Linked DNA regions of Homo sapiens: region 1 is linked to region 2. The links come from fine-mapping of genetic effects on gene expression. Tissue or cell type: monocytes. Region 2 holds a variant in brackets; the other region holds the start of a gene. All regions are shown on one strand. Distances are from middle to middle.

Region 1 (8,187 bases), 48 kb after region 2:
CTTCTAAACTTTCCTTTACACGAGATATATGAGGTTGCTGCCAGCATAACTTGTTTTACAGTAAATTTTATTTTTTTATAAGTAGAGGGAATAGATGAATACACTATAAAATAACAATAAAAAGTATACCATAGGGCCAAGTGTGGTGGCTCATGCCTATAATCCCAGTGATTTGGGAGGCCAAGGTGGGATGATTGCTTGAGACCACAAATCAACTGACTATATCTGCGGCACATGCCTGTAATACCAGCTACTCAGAAGCCTGAGGCAGGAGGACTGCTGGAGCTCAGGAGCCCAACACCAGCCTAGGCAATACAGTGAGACCCACATCTCAAAACAAACAAACAAAAAACCCTAATGGAATACATATGTATGGACCTATTCCACTCCATCGATCTATTTATCTATCCTTATATAAACACTGCACTGTTTAGATTATGTAGGTTTTTTGTTGTTTTTTGTTTTCTTTTTGACAGAGTCTCACTCTGTCGCCCAGGCAGGATGGAGTGCAGTGGCCTGATCTCAGCTCACTGCAACCTCCGCCTCCCAGGTTCAAGCAATTCTCCTGCCTCAGCCTCCCAAGTAGCTGGGATTACAGATGCCCACCACCATACCTGGCTAATTTTTGTATTTTGGGTAGAGACAGGGTTTCACCATCTTGGCCAGGCTGGTCTTGAACTCTTGACCTCGTGATCCACCCGCCTCGGCTTCCCAAAGTGCTGGGATTACAGGTGTGAGCCACCGCACCAGGCAGATTACTGTAGTTTTTAAAGTAAGTCTTGAAGCTAGTAGTATAAATTTTCCAGCTGTGTCCTTCCTTTTCAAGACGGACTATTCTAGGTCCTTGGTACTTCCACATAATTTTAGAGTCTGCTTGTCAATTTCTATTTAAAAGCACCTTTAAGATTATGGGGCCAGGCACGGTGGCTCACGCCTGTAATCCCAGCACTTTGGGAGGCCGAGGCAGGAGGATCACGAGGTCAGGAGATCGAGACCAGCCTGGATAACCCGGTGAAACCCCATCTCTACTAAAAATTCAAAAAATTAGCTGGGTGTGGTGGCGGGCACCTGTAGTCCCAGCTACTCAGGAGGCTGAGGCAGGAGAATGGCGTGAAACTAGGAGGTGCAGCTTGCAGTGAGCAAAGATTGCGCCACGGCAGTCCAGCCTGGGCGACAGAGCGAGACTCCATCTCAAAAAAATATATATATATATTATGACGGTGATTACATAAAATCTGAAACACTGATTTTAAGTAGAGAACGGAGAAATTTTGAGACTAAGAAAGACACAGAAAATAAAAGGGAAGAGATTATAATTTAAAAATAAAACAAATATTTGAAAATTCCATTAAGTTTAACAATATGGAGGTCACTGGGATCTTCATATCAGTAGCTTCATTGCCCTGGTGGAGGAAGCCAGAGTGAAACATCATTTCATGCTTTCATTCTGATTAATAAAACGTGAGTTGTAGCTAGGTACACAGACAACAAAAAAGACTACATCACCTTTCTTTCTTTCTAGTTAACTATGGGCACTTACAAAGAATTGGCTAATGAAATATGAGTGGATGTGTCATGTGCAATTTCTGAAAAGTGTCCTTAAAAAGAAGGGTATGTGCCTTTCTTCCTCCTTCCCTCCTCCCTCTTGCTAGAATGAGCAACTGACAGTTTGAATTAAAGCAGTCATCTTAACACCAAGCATCTTATTAAGGACGGTAGAGCAGCCAGATAGAAGAATCCGAGTCCCTGATGATTACAGAGCTGCTTCCATAAAAGCATGGCTGCCTACCTATGCAATTACATACATATTTAAGCCAGTATTATCTTGTTTTCTGTGTAACACAGCTGATTCCAACACACCACAGTTTTTTGTTTTTTGGTTTTTTTTTTGAGACAGAGTCTCTCACTCTGTCACCCAGGCTGGAGTGCAGTGGCGCGATCTCGGCTCACTGCAAACTCCGTCTCCCAGGTTCACACCATTCTCCTGCCTCAGCCTCCCAAGTAGCTGGGACTACAGGCGGCTGCCACCACGCCCAGCTATTTTTTTGTATTTTTAGTACAGACGGGGTTTCACCGTGTTATCCAGGATGGTCTCAATCTCCTGACCTCGTGATCCACCCGCCTCGGCCTACCAAAGTGCTGGGATTACAAGCGTGAGCCACCGTGCCCGGCCCAGTTCTTAATATCTATATGCCAGTGATCTCAGAGTACCTCTAGCTACGATCTTTCCTGACCTATCTATCCAACAGCTATTGGAACATTTCCACTTGGATGTCCAACAGGCCTTTCATACTCAACTGTCCAAAAGAGAATTCTTTACTTTTTCTCCCCAAACTCTTCCTCCACAAATCTTCTCCATCACTATCCATCAAATGGTCAATGCTTTTTGATTGTAAATGGTAAATGATCTACCTCTTAACTGAAGCAAAAAAACAGATGTTGCCCTTGATTCCTTGTTTTCCCCTTACTCTACATCTAAACCACGCAGAGTTGCTCTTCTCTACCATCAAAACATACCCCCAAATCCATCCATTTTTCTCTGTATTCACTGCTACACTCTTGTCTAGTTCAAGCCAACATCATCTCTCATTTGGAGTAATAAAATGACACCTCAAAGGTGCTTTTTGTAACTTAAGAAATCCTTCTCAGAGACATTTAAAAAAAAAGTTCTGGAGATAGATAGTAGTGCTGGTTGCACAATGTGAATGTCACTGAACTCAACAACTCAACATGGTTAACATGATAAATCTTATGTGTAACAAGATTTAACAAAGCAAACAAAAAAGAAATCTTTCCTAGAGACAATGGTCTCTTATATTCCTTTCCAAATACCTTGCAGCTGTGCCATTCACATTTAGGTCTTTATCTGGAAACTGTTGTCAATAGTTTGAAAGTAAGAATCTAATCCTGTCTGTATACCATAACAATGCCAGATATCTCAGCAACCATATATTTCATCATCCTTTATTGAATAGTCTATGCTTTCCCCCTGCTTTGCAATACCACTTAGTGGTATACTAAACTCCCGTATGTAAATAGGTATGTTTCTAGTGTCTCTATTCTGTTCCATGAATCTAATTCTCTATCCCTGAATCAATATCATACCATCTTAATAATTACAACTTTATATTAAGCTTTGGTATCTGATAGGGAGAGACCTTATTTTTCTTCTTCTTCAAAATTGACTTCACTATTCTTGGTCCCTTGCCTTTCCATATAAATTTTAAGTTCAGCATGGCAAATTCCATAAAACAATATGGTGATTTTAATTGGCATTACACTGAATTCGTAGAACTGAGGAAAACTGACATCTTTTTGTTGAGTCTTTCCATCTATTAATACGGTATATCTCACCATTTACTTGGGTCATCTTTTGTGTTCCAACAGAGCCTTACAATTTTCTGTCTAAAGGACTACACAGCTTTAGGTTCATCTATTTCTAGGTACCTTTAGTTTTGAATGCCATTATGAATAGTGTCTTTTTATTATTAAAACTCCTAGTTAATTGTTACTGGTATACAGAAGTTTTTAAATGCAGAAATTAAGGCCATTTCTGACATCCCCCTGGCCAAAATAACCCCTCTAGTCACTCTTTATCACATCACCAAATGGTACTTATTCCTTAACTGATTTCAGAGTCTCTCTGCCCCCACCAAAATTAGTTACCTGTTCACCATTGTATCCCAAGCGTCTAGAATAATAGCTGACACACATCAAGTGCACAAAAATGGAACTGATGAGATCAAGGAAGAGAATGTATGCAAGATGAAAAAAAGCAAATAAAAGATACTTGGGAAGAAGAAGACTTGGAGGCAATTTTTTTATTTTAAAGAGAGTGCAACAATATGGAAATCACCAGTTGGAAAAGATTTGAGGGATAGAAAGAGGGAACTAAATGGAAGAGCTGGGTTCCTTAGCGATCACATGAACACACACGATGTTAAAAAAAAAAAAAAAAAAAAAAAGGCAGCATGAGGTCGGGCGCGGTGGCTCACACCTGTAATCGCAGCACTCTGGGAGGCCGAGGCGGGGGATCACCTGATGTCAGGAATTCCAGACCAGCCTGGCCAACATGGACAAACCCCGTGTCTACTAAAAATACGAAAATCAGCCGGGCGTGGTAGCGCACGCCTGTAATCCCAGTTACTAGGGAGAATGAGGCAGGATAATTGCTTGAACCCAGGAGACGGAGGTTGCAGTGAGCCCAGATCGCGCCACTGCACTCCAGCCTGGCAGACAGACCGAGACTCCATCTCAAAAAAAAAAAAAAAAAAGGCAGCATGAGCTTAATGCGGGAAGTACAATTTAACCTAAGGAACAGAAAACAAGAATCTCATATCTCAACTAGTAAAAATAATGACAGTGTTCCTTTAGACTTACAGAACAGACTTGGGGAAAGGGAGTAACTTTAGAACCTTCTGGGGTCTTTCACTTTAAAATGACCGTTGCCGAGTTTAGAGCTCTCTCAGCATTCAATCTATTCCATCTCTGGGGTTAGAGAGGGAGCAGGAAGCGGTGGTCTGCAAGGCTCAGAAGTGACTGGTGAGGCCCTTTCCTCCTCCTCCTCATCTCTCCGTGACTACCGAGCCCGGGAAGACGGACCGGCAGGTGCACTCCCCAAGGCCTCGACAGCAGCCAGAGAAAGGCAGCGACAGGGAAAGACGAGTCAGGCTCGCGACCACCAGAGAGAGAGGCCCTCACGCCCAGCCGAGCGTCAGCTGGTCGGTCCGGTCCGCGCGCCAGACGGCGGTGCTCGGCCGTGCCCGGTCCCTGCCCTCCCCATTCTCCGCTCCCCACCGCGCCCAGCTGCGCCGACGCCCCCGTCCGCCCCCACACCACCCCTGCCTTCACGTCCTACCTGCCGGCAGGCGGACTCAGCCCGTGCCCAACTGCTCGTCGGACCCCGTTGTCTGGGGAGCCCTACTCTTTCCGCGGCTCCCGGCCGGGACCCTCCACCCGGCGGCTGGCGGCTCGTGACCCCGCCCCCTCGGCCCGCTCTGGGCCCGCCTCCCGCCGGCTGGCTCCACCCACAATAGCGTCCCTAGCGCGATGGCGTATCGGCGCAGGCGCACTCTGCCGGCAACGCCGAGGCGCTTCTGCATCTGTGGGCCGAGGTGTGTGGCGAGCGTCCGAGCGGCTGGGGAAAGTGGGGTGTGGGAACACTGAGGGGTCCCAAAGAAAGGGGAGAGGAAGAGAAAAGCCCCAGAAGCCTGTCCACCGGGTGCTGGGGGCACAGGGCGGTGTCCCCCACTCTCTCCGGGCCCTTCCTGGCGGGGCCGCACGGCAGTCCCCCCCTCGTTTAATCGTGGGTTTCCTGTGGGGCTAGGGCTCGCCCTGCGCCCAGGTGTAAGTGGAAGTTAATTAAATGGGCGTACGCTGAGTGGTTTGTTTCCAGCCTAGGTCCGCACGGGACGTGATTTATTTAGTGAAGGGGCACAAGATCTGGAGATCTGGCTTGTACTTTTTTCCTTTGGCCAGGAACTACGGCTTAATCTCTTCCTTTGGTCTCCTCATATGTAAAATGAGGTGGCTGAGGCCGGGCGCGGTGGCTCACGCCTGCAATCCCAGCACATTGGGAGGCCGAGGCGGGCAAATCACTTGAGGCCAGGAGTTCGAGACCAGCCTGGCCAACATGGTGAAACCCCGTCTCCACTAAAAATACAATAAATTGGCCTGGCGCGGTGGCTCACACCTGTTGTCCCAGCACTTTGGGAGGCCGAGGTAGGTGGATCATTTGAGATCAGGAGTTCGAGACCAGCCTGGCCAACATGGTGAAACCCTGCCTCTACTAAAAATACAAAATTTGGCCTGGCGTGGTGGCGGGCGCCTGTAGTCCCCGCTGCTTGGGAGGCTGAGGCAGGAGAATCGCTTGAGCCCGGGAGGCAGAGGTTGCAGTGAGCCGACATCACGACACTGCGCTCCAGCCTGGGCGACAGAGTGAGACTCTGTCTCGAAGTGTATATATACATATATATATATTATATATGTATTTTATATATAATATATATTTATTTTATATATAATATATAATATGTATATTATGTATATTATATATAATACGTATATTATATATAATACATATATATAATATGTATATTATATATTATATATAATATTATATTGTATATTATATATTATATATAATATATTGTATATTATATATATTATATATTATATATATTATATTGTATATTATATATAATATATTGTATATTATATAATATATTGTATATTATATATAATATACAGTATATTATATATAATATACTGTATATTATATATAATATATTGTATATTATATATAATATATTGTATATTACATATATTGTATATTACATATAATATATTGTATATTACATATATTGTATATTACATATAATATATTGTATATTATATAATATATAATATATATTATATAATATATTGTATATTATATATTATATAATATATTGTATATTATATATTATATAATATATTGTATATTATATATAATATATTGTATATTATATATTATATATTGTATATTATATATTATATATAAAAGTGTGTATATATATACACACACACACACACGATACAACACAGTACATTAGCTGGGCTTAGTAGTGCATGCCTGTAGTCCCAGCTACTCGGGAGGCTGAGGTGGGAGGATCGCTTGAACCCAGGAGGCAAGAGGTTGCAGGGAGCAGAGATCGCGCCACTGCACTACAGCCTGGGCGGCAGAGCCAGACCCTGTCTCAGTAAAATAAAATATAAACTAAAAGGAGGTGGTTGGGCTCACTGTATAATTTTTGAAGCACCTTTCAGAACTATCTTCTTTGATTCCTGTCTCCCAGGATCTTACCCTTTGTCATTCTCCTGAATGGGAAAAGAAATCCTTTGAATAATGGACGGTTTATACCTGGGTTGGGCACACTGGTGTAGAGTTAGGCCTCTTGCTTCTATTAGGGCTAATTGACCTTGGGTAGAATTGGCTGGCGAGTAAGATGTGGCATTAATATTCCAAGTAGACTCATTTTAATTTTGTTAAAAAATCAGAATGTCTTTTTTCTTAATGTTAACTGTCTTTCATAGACTTAACTGTTAAATATTGACATTTAATTATTTTGCCTCGTTTCAGAGGCAGATCCCCAAAGTATATGAAAGTTAATGATTTTTAATTTAATGTTACCTTACTCTTTTTATTAGCATTCTTCAGGTCATCTGAACCTTCTGAGAAAACATGGTCAACGTCTTGAAAGGAGTGCTTATAGAATGGTTAGTAGTTTTGATACTGCATGAGTTTTAAGTTTAAATATTGAATCTTGACTTGTATGTATGTCTTTTCTAAAACCCTGTTGTTTTTAAGATATGGATGAAATCAAGTCTTTCGCTTTTAACAAGTGGCACAGATTTTGTTGCAAAGCTCCTGGTGCCAGATTTCAGTCCCTCTGTTGAATTGATGGAACTGGCATGATCAGAGGCAGCATATTTGTTAGATGAGTCGTCTTTAGAGAAACAGTGCTTGCATTCTCCTCAAACATGATGAATTTTAGGGCCTGAAAGAGTTCAGGAACTTGCTTAAGTCTTTACCATTACAAACTGTGGACTTTAAAAAAGAGAAAAACAACAGAGCCAAATGGAGGTTTCTTAAATTCCTTTAGGTACATTCCAGAGGAGAAACTAAAAACCATAAATGGGCAGAGTTGAGTTCCTCAAAGCAATCCAGTGTCCAGGAACCCCGGGAACCCTGCTCTGTGGACACTCCCATTGTCTGAAAATACTACTGTCTACTTTCGGTGCCTCTAATATGAGCCAGTGCATGGATAATGATACTGTTTACTGTGATGGCAAGGCTAAGGAGGAGCAAGACCAAACCCTAGGACACTGCCAACATTTAGAACAGCACTAGCCAATAGAAATCTAATGCAAGCCACAGATATAGTCTTACATTTTTTCTAGCCATCTTAAAAGTAACGTAAAATGAAACAGGTGAAGTTAATATCTTTTGTTTAACCCTGTCTATGCAAAACACTATGCTTTGAACACATACTAAGTCTTCAAAAAAATCTTCATCTTCAAAGTCGAATGGATATTTTAATTTTACAGCACATCTCACAGACTAACCGTGTTTCAAGGACTCTGTAGTGACCTGACTAGTGGGCTACCTTATGCATAGTGCAGATTTGGAGTTTTGATACAGGAGAC
Region 2 (8,187 bases):
TAGGGCAGAGCCTTGTCTCACAGGATCTACTGTCCCAGTGCAGGAACATGAGGTATGCCCAGCTGGGAGCTCCCTCAGGACATGAGCGTGGTGTGGCTGGTCTCTCAGCCTGCTATGGCAGACCGCTGATGACCACACTGTCAGGACAGTGCTACTATTCCACAGCACACAGTCCCCCATGGAGAACACAGCTTTCATGGGAACTGTTCCTCTGGAGGCACCTTTTCTTCCATCCCCCTGCCCCGGCTTTGGAACCGATAATGAAACACAAAGATCTAAAGGATGATGACAGTAGGTCTTTGAGGACACGAAGGGCTACACCCACCTTTGTCTCAGCAAAAATCCCCACCTCAGAGGCAATCCTGAGTGCTTCATCAGATAAACTAGGCCACGGGCTGCAGAAAGGCCTTCTGCAAGGTGGGTGGTGAAAATTTCAAAGTGGACTGGGGGAGTCGCACACAGGGGAGGCCATTCCATAAGCAACCACTAGGACCCCAAGAACAGACACTTGATCACACCTGTACCTCAGCAGCTCTGGGCCTGGTGTGAGCAGGCACCCAGAGTCTGGGACTGTGGGCACTAAAGCGACCATAGACTGCAATGGTGAGGGGGAGCAGGAAGAATAAAGGGGCACCCCTGGGGCCACCCAAGAATGCTGAGGCATGTTGACGAGGTGGGTGTATATGAAACGGGCTGCTTCTCATGTTTATTCATTACCGCTATGTGAAAGCACTACGCTGTCAAACCCATATCCCTCTTAGATGATTTGTAACAGGTTGCCCTTTTCTAGAGAAAGGAACAGCATGGAACAAGAGTAGTAATTTTAAAAGTCCTAGCCATAGCTACACAGATTAATTTAGCAGGGGGGGTAAGGGAGCCGCTATTAAGTAAAATGGAAAGATAAAATAACTTTAGGTTGGCCACAGTGGCTGAAAATAACATCACAATGGCCACTTCACAAAGTTGAAGCCACACTTACCTCCCATGCTATGTGATATCCAAACCACTGGCCTATCCCCAACACCAGCAGCTCTGAGCTTCCTAAGAAGTTCGTTGCTTCTGAATGCAATGGACTTTCTGAACAAAACAAAAACAGCAGGCATGACACAAGGCTATCGATCCCCTCAATTTGCTGTCTAATTTTTAGAGTTAAGAACTTTAGTCTACAGGACCAATGCTACATACTACATTTAGAGTAAGAAATACCCCCATTCTCTCTGCTTAATATAAAATACCCCTATTCTCTCTTATTGAACTCCTGGCCCCAAGGAATCCTCCCACCTCGGCCTCCCAAAGCACTAGGATTATAGGCATGAGCCACCACGCCTGGGATCTCTCTGCTCAATTCCTGAAATCGTTAATTCTCTATTTGTAACTTATTAACATTGGCCTAATTAGGAATATCTAAGCCCAGAACAGGCCATTCATTTACTGCATGAACATTGTTGGAGCACCTGTGTCAGGCAATTTTTTCGGGTCAAATGTGGGTCTCCCTGCAACTGCCCTCCAACACTTAGGATATGGATGTCCTTTTTCATCCAAGGCCTGACAATGAAAGTATCACCAAAGACTGTGGTCTCTCTACTGGTAGTTAGGCTGCAAAAATATTAAGCTTTCATAATTTTGGTTTATTCTTTAGAAATACTAGGGTGCTATTTAGAAAAACTAGAATGAGTCAAGTTTATTAGCACTTATTCCTTCCAATGCATGCTTTTATAACTAGCATAAACAGGATGCTAATAGAATCAGAATTCGAAATAAGTAATTTTTAAACTAAAGAGGAACTTCAAAACTATCTAGTCTGGTAGTTTCAAACTGTTTATTTGTAGACACATTTCTTCAAAATAAAGGTTCTCCAGAGCTCCTCTGGGTGAAATGGGGAGGGAGACCTGGGGTCTTGCCTGCTCACCTTGACACCCTTCTTGGGCACCTACGGGAGGTTCATTCAGAAAGCAGTTTGATAACACTGATTTAGACCAACTCTGTCAATCTGTAGACAAAGCTTCCCGGAAAAGTTAACTGACTGGTCTAAGACTGCACAGCAAATCAAAGGTAGGATCCGGCTACTCTCAGTCCAGTAACTCTGAAATCCAGCACTCCTTCCCATGTATACAACTGGCACAGATGACATACAAGGGAAATAGCAGCTGATATTTCTCAGCATCTTTCTCTTTGCTTCCTTTAGCCAGTATGATTGTGGACACAAGAACAAAAAAACATCACTTTTACTTCTGATAGAAAAGGAGACTGCTAGACAATCCACGATCCTTCACTATTAGAACAGTTGTAAATAAACCATGTTAGGAGCCCACCATTGGTGATATACCTAAGCCTTCTACTATTCCACTGCTTATTGACAGCAAACTCCTTCTAGAAGGAAGACAAAAAAGATTAGGTTTGTTCTTCATAAGAAAATCCTGTCTGTGGCATCAAAAAATTAAAATCACTTCCCATCCAAGAGGACCTAAACTTGCGGCCTGAATTCTTCCCTGTCCTCCTGGTCTAAAGTCGCCTCTGTTACCTTTCCATAGGGCACCTTGCTCTCCAGTCGCTGAGGCTGGTGTCATACTCCACAGATATAATTCGGAGAGCAGGACAGTCTTTTGCTAACCATGTCTAAGTAAAATAAAACATATGTGAGAACAAGTATGAATCTTCACCACTGCAATTACTGCCTAGTAAATCAAATTTATAACTAAAGGCCTCTTGCACTATAATTAAAGATAGCACTGGAATAAGGTTTGAAGGTACCGTAAAAACAATTCCAGCACTATCTTTTCAAGTCTCTGGTCTCGAAGTGGTACCAGTATTTATAGCATAAGGCCAATGAAGGTTTCAAGAGAATATTTTCCATTTTAAGCTGCTATAGCCAAAAGCAAGGCCTGTTTTAAAGTCTAGATCAAGTTGGCTTTTTGAAAGAATTTAGTAGAATGCTATAATCTCAGGACAGATGGCATAGTCTGACAGATTTTGGATCTGAGAATTCAGAGACACTAATAATAATCATCACAGTTCTATCTCTGTATACCCTAGGTCTATCATCATCTCTGTACTTCAGTGCCACCAGAAAGTGCAAATCATTCTTCTACTTGATAAGCCTTTGTGAAGGAGAATAAGTAGTAATGGAACAATGCCCTAAAAACTATTCACACGTATATGCAGCATCACTTTTAAATGAGCTTTAGATAAATTCCATTCAATGAATTCATTCCAGAATTAAGGTTCTTTGGGAGAAATAGTATCAAAGAAATGTAAAGTATTAATTAGCCAGGCATGATGGCATGTGCCTGTGGTCCCAGCTACTCAGGAGGCTGAGGGGGAATGACTGTTTGAGCCTGGGAGGTTGAGACTGCAGTGCGCTAGGATCGCACCACTGCACTCCAGTCTGGGTGACAAAATGAGACCCTCATCT[C/CA]AAAAAAAAAAAAAAAAAAGAAGGAAAGAAATGCAAAGTATAATTACTTCTTCAAAGACTTTCTATTTTTGTAATTATTAAGGTCATAGAATTAGGTAACTATTATAAATGTAAGTATTGTTATGTTATTTTTGTATTATATTACAACAAAAGTGAACTATTACTGGCTCTTGCCCCTATTTTTTACTTAATAGAATATTTTTTGAGTCATACACTGCACCCCAAATGGAAATTATACAACATAGGGTGACAAGCCCAGTTGTTGTCAAAACATACTACAAATCTCCCTAAGGGAAAGAAGAACTGCATGGGAAAAAAATCCCAGAACAAAGAGAAAAACAAGCAAGCCACAATCAGGGCCCCAGCAACCAGGGCCCCAGCAACCAGGGCCAGAGTCAGTGGCTCCCTTACCTTGGGCCAGCACGTCGTATATCTGTCTTCATCCTCCATAGGTTTTTCAATTACAGCCTGCTCACTGTCCTGCTGGCGCCATGTTTTGAATGCTGCTCCCATAAGGCCATGAATAAAAAGGACATCTGCTTTAATGGGCTGACTAATAGGGGAGAGAGTTTTAAAAAGAAGCAGAATAAATGCATTACTGCTTTGGTAAGAATCTACACAGCATTCTCTGTGGATGGTGCTTTAGCAGGCTTATGTGACATAAAACTGAATTAAAGCAAGCTCTATAAGCACAGGTTTGCTGGGAAAACCTAGAAGGAGCTTTGGCAAAGACATACATGAAGCATGTTCACTGTTCTCTAAAAATGGAGACTATTCTAGTCAGGCAGACCAACCACAATCAATTGTAATGAGCTTAGCAATCAATCAACTGACAGATGTCATAGATTACCCTCTAAAGACTTCCATTTGAGAATATTCTACAAATCAATAAAAGTATTTAAGAAATTAAAGAAGAACGTGCTAATAACAGTTTCAAAGTCAGTATATATAAAAGAGATTTTCAAAAATGTGTTAAGGAAACTAATACTTATAAAATGAGATTTCAAAGTAACATTCACTCATTGCATATGACGCATTAAAAACTGTAGATAGTATGTTAGTTGCAAGCTATTTACAGTACACATACAATTATGCAATGCACATATATAACCATAATATTTTATTTACAAATTGTAATTAACCAGGTAATCCACTTTTTAATTTAAAAGTTTTTGCTATTTTCTGAGGTACTTTTTGTAAAGTGCCCTAAGAAAACCAAGAAATATGTTATTTTTTCAGTGTGGTCCCTTCTATATTTATTGTCTTAGCAATTATACAACTAGATATAATGACCACAAATAACCTTAAGAAGGGGCATGAGTCAAACTTATTACAACTTATTCTTTCTAATGCATCCTTTTATAACTAGCATAAACTTTCTCCAGTCCCTTGAGTTCTAGGCCCAGGCTAATTTGGTTGCCACATAAGACAATGTCTTATCTCCTTCCTATTCAGCTGACTTCTACAATCCAAATCAGTTATTAACTCAGATCTAAGTGAAAATGCCTTGAACCAAAGGAGATATGTATTACAAAGTTTAAGTGTGACGCATTATCAAATGTGAATGCCACCTAACTGAAGGGAAGCCCTTTGTAAAATAACCATGACAATTTAGCTAGTTCACATACTTTTCATGACAACCTCCAATTCTTTTGTGGTTACTATAGACAAATTATTTTAGTAAATAAGATATTTGACTTATAAGTTATTTAACTTATCTGAATTATGCAGAAATAAGTTAAAAATTTGAGGCCTCTAGGCTTCACATTTCCAAAGGGGACAAAGCAACTCTCTTCTGCTTCCTTACCTTGTTCGATATTGGGGATGCAGCACATATACGCCATCCTGATATTTTTCTTGCACAGTTTCTCGGTCTAGATTTGCCAGGATTCTGGCAGCGTGTGAGGACTCCATAATGTGGGGAGATTTCATTGCTTCTGCCATGATGGAAACCCAGCCTGGTGAAAAGTACACATATCCTAAATACTGATGTGAATCCATCGCAGACCACAGAGAGAGTGAGGTTTCAAACTGAATATGATGGGAGAAAGGCAAACCTTGCGTGTCTGTCCTTGGCGGAGAAGTCCGACTATTCCAACCCCATTCTGCCCTACGATCCTCTGAGACCTGTGGCACAATACCATCCACATACCCCTTAAGGGACCTCAAAGAAGGAAAGAGGGGTTGAAGAGCCATTTTCTTTATTTAGAAAGCCTAACACTAATACCAATTATAGAGGTGTTCATAGCAGTTATAGAGGTGTTCACAAAAGTGAACAAAATACCATGATGTTTTGCTTTTAACAAGAATTATGAAACTCAGTGGGTTAATACTAGTTATTTCATCCTGACCAGCAATCAGTAATACCCTTTCATACAAATGAAGAAACTATTTCTTAACAATGAATTTGAGACACAAAACTCTTGTAGAATCTGGAGATCAGGAAGGAAAAAACATTTTTTAAAGGGAGGCAAACAGAAAATGCATGGATAATACTATCTATGCTATGATTTCTTTTTTTTAATGTTTTTGTTTTTAAAACTTTATATACATAAATATAAAAGTACATGTGCACACACATACACAAACACACAAAGATCTATACACTAAACTTATAAAGTCGTTACCTTTTAGGAGAGAGATAGGGTAGAAGAGGGCTCTGTAAAAAACGTATGTTTAGCTTTTTCGCTATATCTATTTTCTGAAGTACGGTGAAAAATCTATGTATTTATTTATATAATTTATTTAATTTAAAATAAAGCAGAATATGGGCCTTGAAGTTAGACTTGGGCTCACATTTCTGCTCCCTCCTTACTTGCTCTGGAACCTCAGTCAAGTTATTTAGCAACTGAACTAGAGGAAGGTTTTAATAAACTAATGTATGTGAAAACCGTGGGCCCAGGCCCAGCAGGCACTCAATACACGACAGCTGTCCCCATGCCCTTCTCCCACTCTTTACGACAAAAGTGTTGAGTCACTGTGATGATGGGAAGCTAGCATTTAATAACCTAAAAGAAGCTTCAGACTCAGTACTTAACAATATTCAAATTTATAACATCAGAAGATTCCTCTTCAAAATCTGTTAAAGATTTTAAAATAATAAAATAAGAATATTTAAAAATTATATCTATAGAGATAGACAAGTATGTTATTGGTATATATGAAAATACGGCTTTATTTTTAATGAAGTCACAAGAAAAAGCATGGTACAAGCCATCTCTGGCTTTTTTCAGTTGACAAAATATGTTCACAATGTCCGAGATACTCCACCTTTGAAAAATATCAAATGCCCTTTGGAAAACTTACTTCTTTAACATTGAGCATTTTAAAATTATATAACATCTGAATGCACTCATGCAAAACACATAATAATGTTTCAGTCAACAATGAACCACAAATACTATGGTGATCCCATAAGATTATAGTACAGTATTTTTGCTGTGCCTTTTCTATGTTTAGCTGTGTTTAGATACTCAAATATTTCCCATTGTGTTACAACTGTCTACAGTGTTCAGTACAGTAACCTGCTGTATAGGTTTGGAGCCTAGGAGCAATAGGCTGTCCCATACAGCCTAGGTGTGGAATAGGTGCTACCATCCAGGTTTGTGTAAGTATACTTTGCGATGTTTGCACAGTGACAAAACTGCCTAACGATACATTCCTCAGAATGTTTCTCCACTATTAAGCAATGCATGTCTGTACATGTTAACTGTAAAAAATAATGAAATAACTAAAAGTAGCATCTAATGATGAAAGTCTTGCTTTAGTACTCCCATAATTTCCCAACTCCATTTACATCCTCAGAGTAATGAAAGGTAGAAGTTTGGTGGACACCCTTTTGAAAAATATAGTCATATATCTATAATTTAAACACATACAATGGGCCAGGCGTGGTGTTTCATGCCTGTAATCCCAACACTTTGGGAGGCTGAGGCAGGCAGATCACTTGAGGTCAGGAGTTCAAGACCAGCCTGGCCAACATGTGAAACCCCATCTCTACTAAAATTACAAAATTAGCCGGGTGTGGTGGTGGGCGCCTGTAATCCCAGCGACTCAGAAGGCTGAGGCATGAGAATCACTTGAACCCGGGAGGTGGAGGTTGCAGGGAGCCAAGATAGCGCCACTGCACTCCAGCCTGGGCAACAGAGTGAGACGCTGTCTCAAAGAAAAAGAAAAATGTAGCTCTATGTGCACTTTTTGAAACCTAAATGGAATCATACTACTGTTCTGTGTCTGTACTTCAGCAGTATGTCTTGGAGAGCTCTCTATATATATCAACTTCATTCCTTTGAACTATAGTATTACGTCACATGAGTACGCCATTGTTTAACCACTATTCATTCCTATTGGCAGACATTTAGGTTGCTCCAACTTTTGTAAATCTGAAGGCAAAAATCTGCAGATCTGATACTAAGATTGATACAAAATATATAAAAAGAGGGAAAGACACAGGATGCCTAAAGAGAAAAAAACACAGGGCAAGTTAGCAGAATTCAAATTGGAGTACTGAGAAGTAATGAAGGCTGAGCAAAAAGAAGGTATATGTAGGTAACTCTTTCAGAAGTTTAGCTATAACAGGGAGGACAGGATGTTATAGGGGATGCAGATTATGTTTTTCACATCTTCCTCCAATGTATGTGATCAGAGGGTCCAGCTATGAGGCAGCAGCTGACCATGAGACCAGAAAAAAGTATACATTCCTGAGACTGTGAAAGGAGACAGGCCCAAACATGGCTGGAGGGCTTATAAAAGAGGTGTCTCTTTTCCTATTACCA

The links. PIP is the estimated chance that this variant, and not a neighbour inherited with it, causes the effect.
Region 1: SERAC1 starts here. The variant in region 2 is fine-mapped to the expression of SERAC1 in monocytes (BLUEPRINT, PIP 0.95). The same link has a PIP of 0.9 or more in neutrophils.

The regions. Positions count from the first base shown.
Region 1 is chr6:158,163,282-158,171,468 of GRCh38, forward strand. It overlaps SERAC1 (serine active site containing 1), which reads right to left and starts at 4,981. Exons shown (of 17, transcript NM_032861.4): 1 at 4,859-4,981. It overlaps GTF2H5 (general transcription factor IIH subunit 5), which reads left to right and starts at 5,069. Exons shown (of 3, transcript NM_207118.3): 1 at 5,069-5,114; 2 at 7,189-7,257. The coding sequence starts at 7,223. RefSeq lists silencers at 4,779-4,848, 4,889-5,068.
Region 2 is chr6:158,115,206-158,123,392 of GRCh38, forward strand. It overlaps SERAC1 (serine active site containing 1), which reads right to left. Exons shown (of 17, transcript NM_032861.4): 11 at 5,220-5,370; 12 at 3,824-3,965; 13 at 2,522-2,616; 14 at 980-1,077. Among named protein-coding and RNA genes, the nearest start is that of SERAC1, 49 kb to the right of the region's middle. RefSeq lists a silencer at 4,898-5,098. The variant C/CA (reference allele first, on the strand shown) is at 3,413.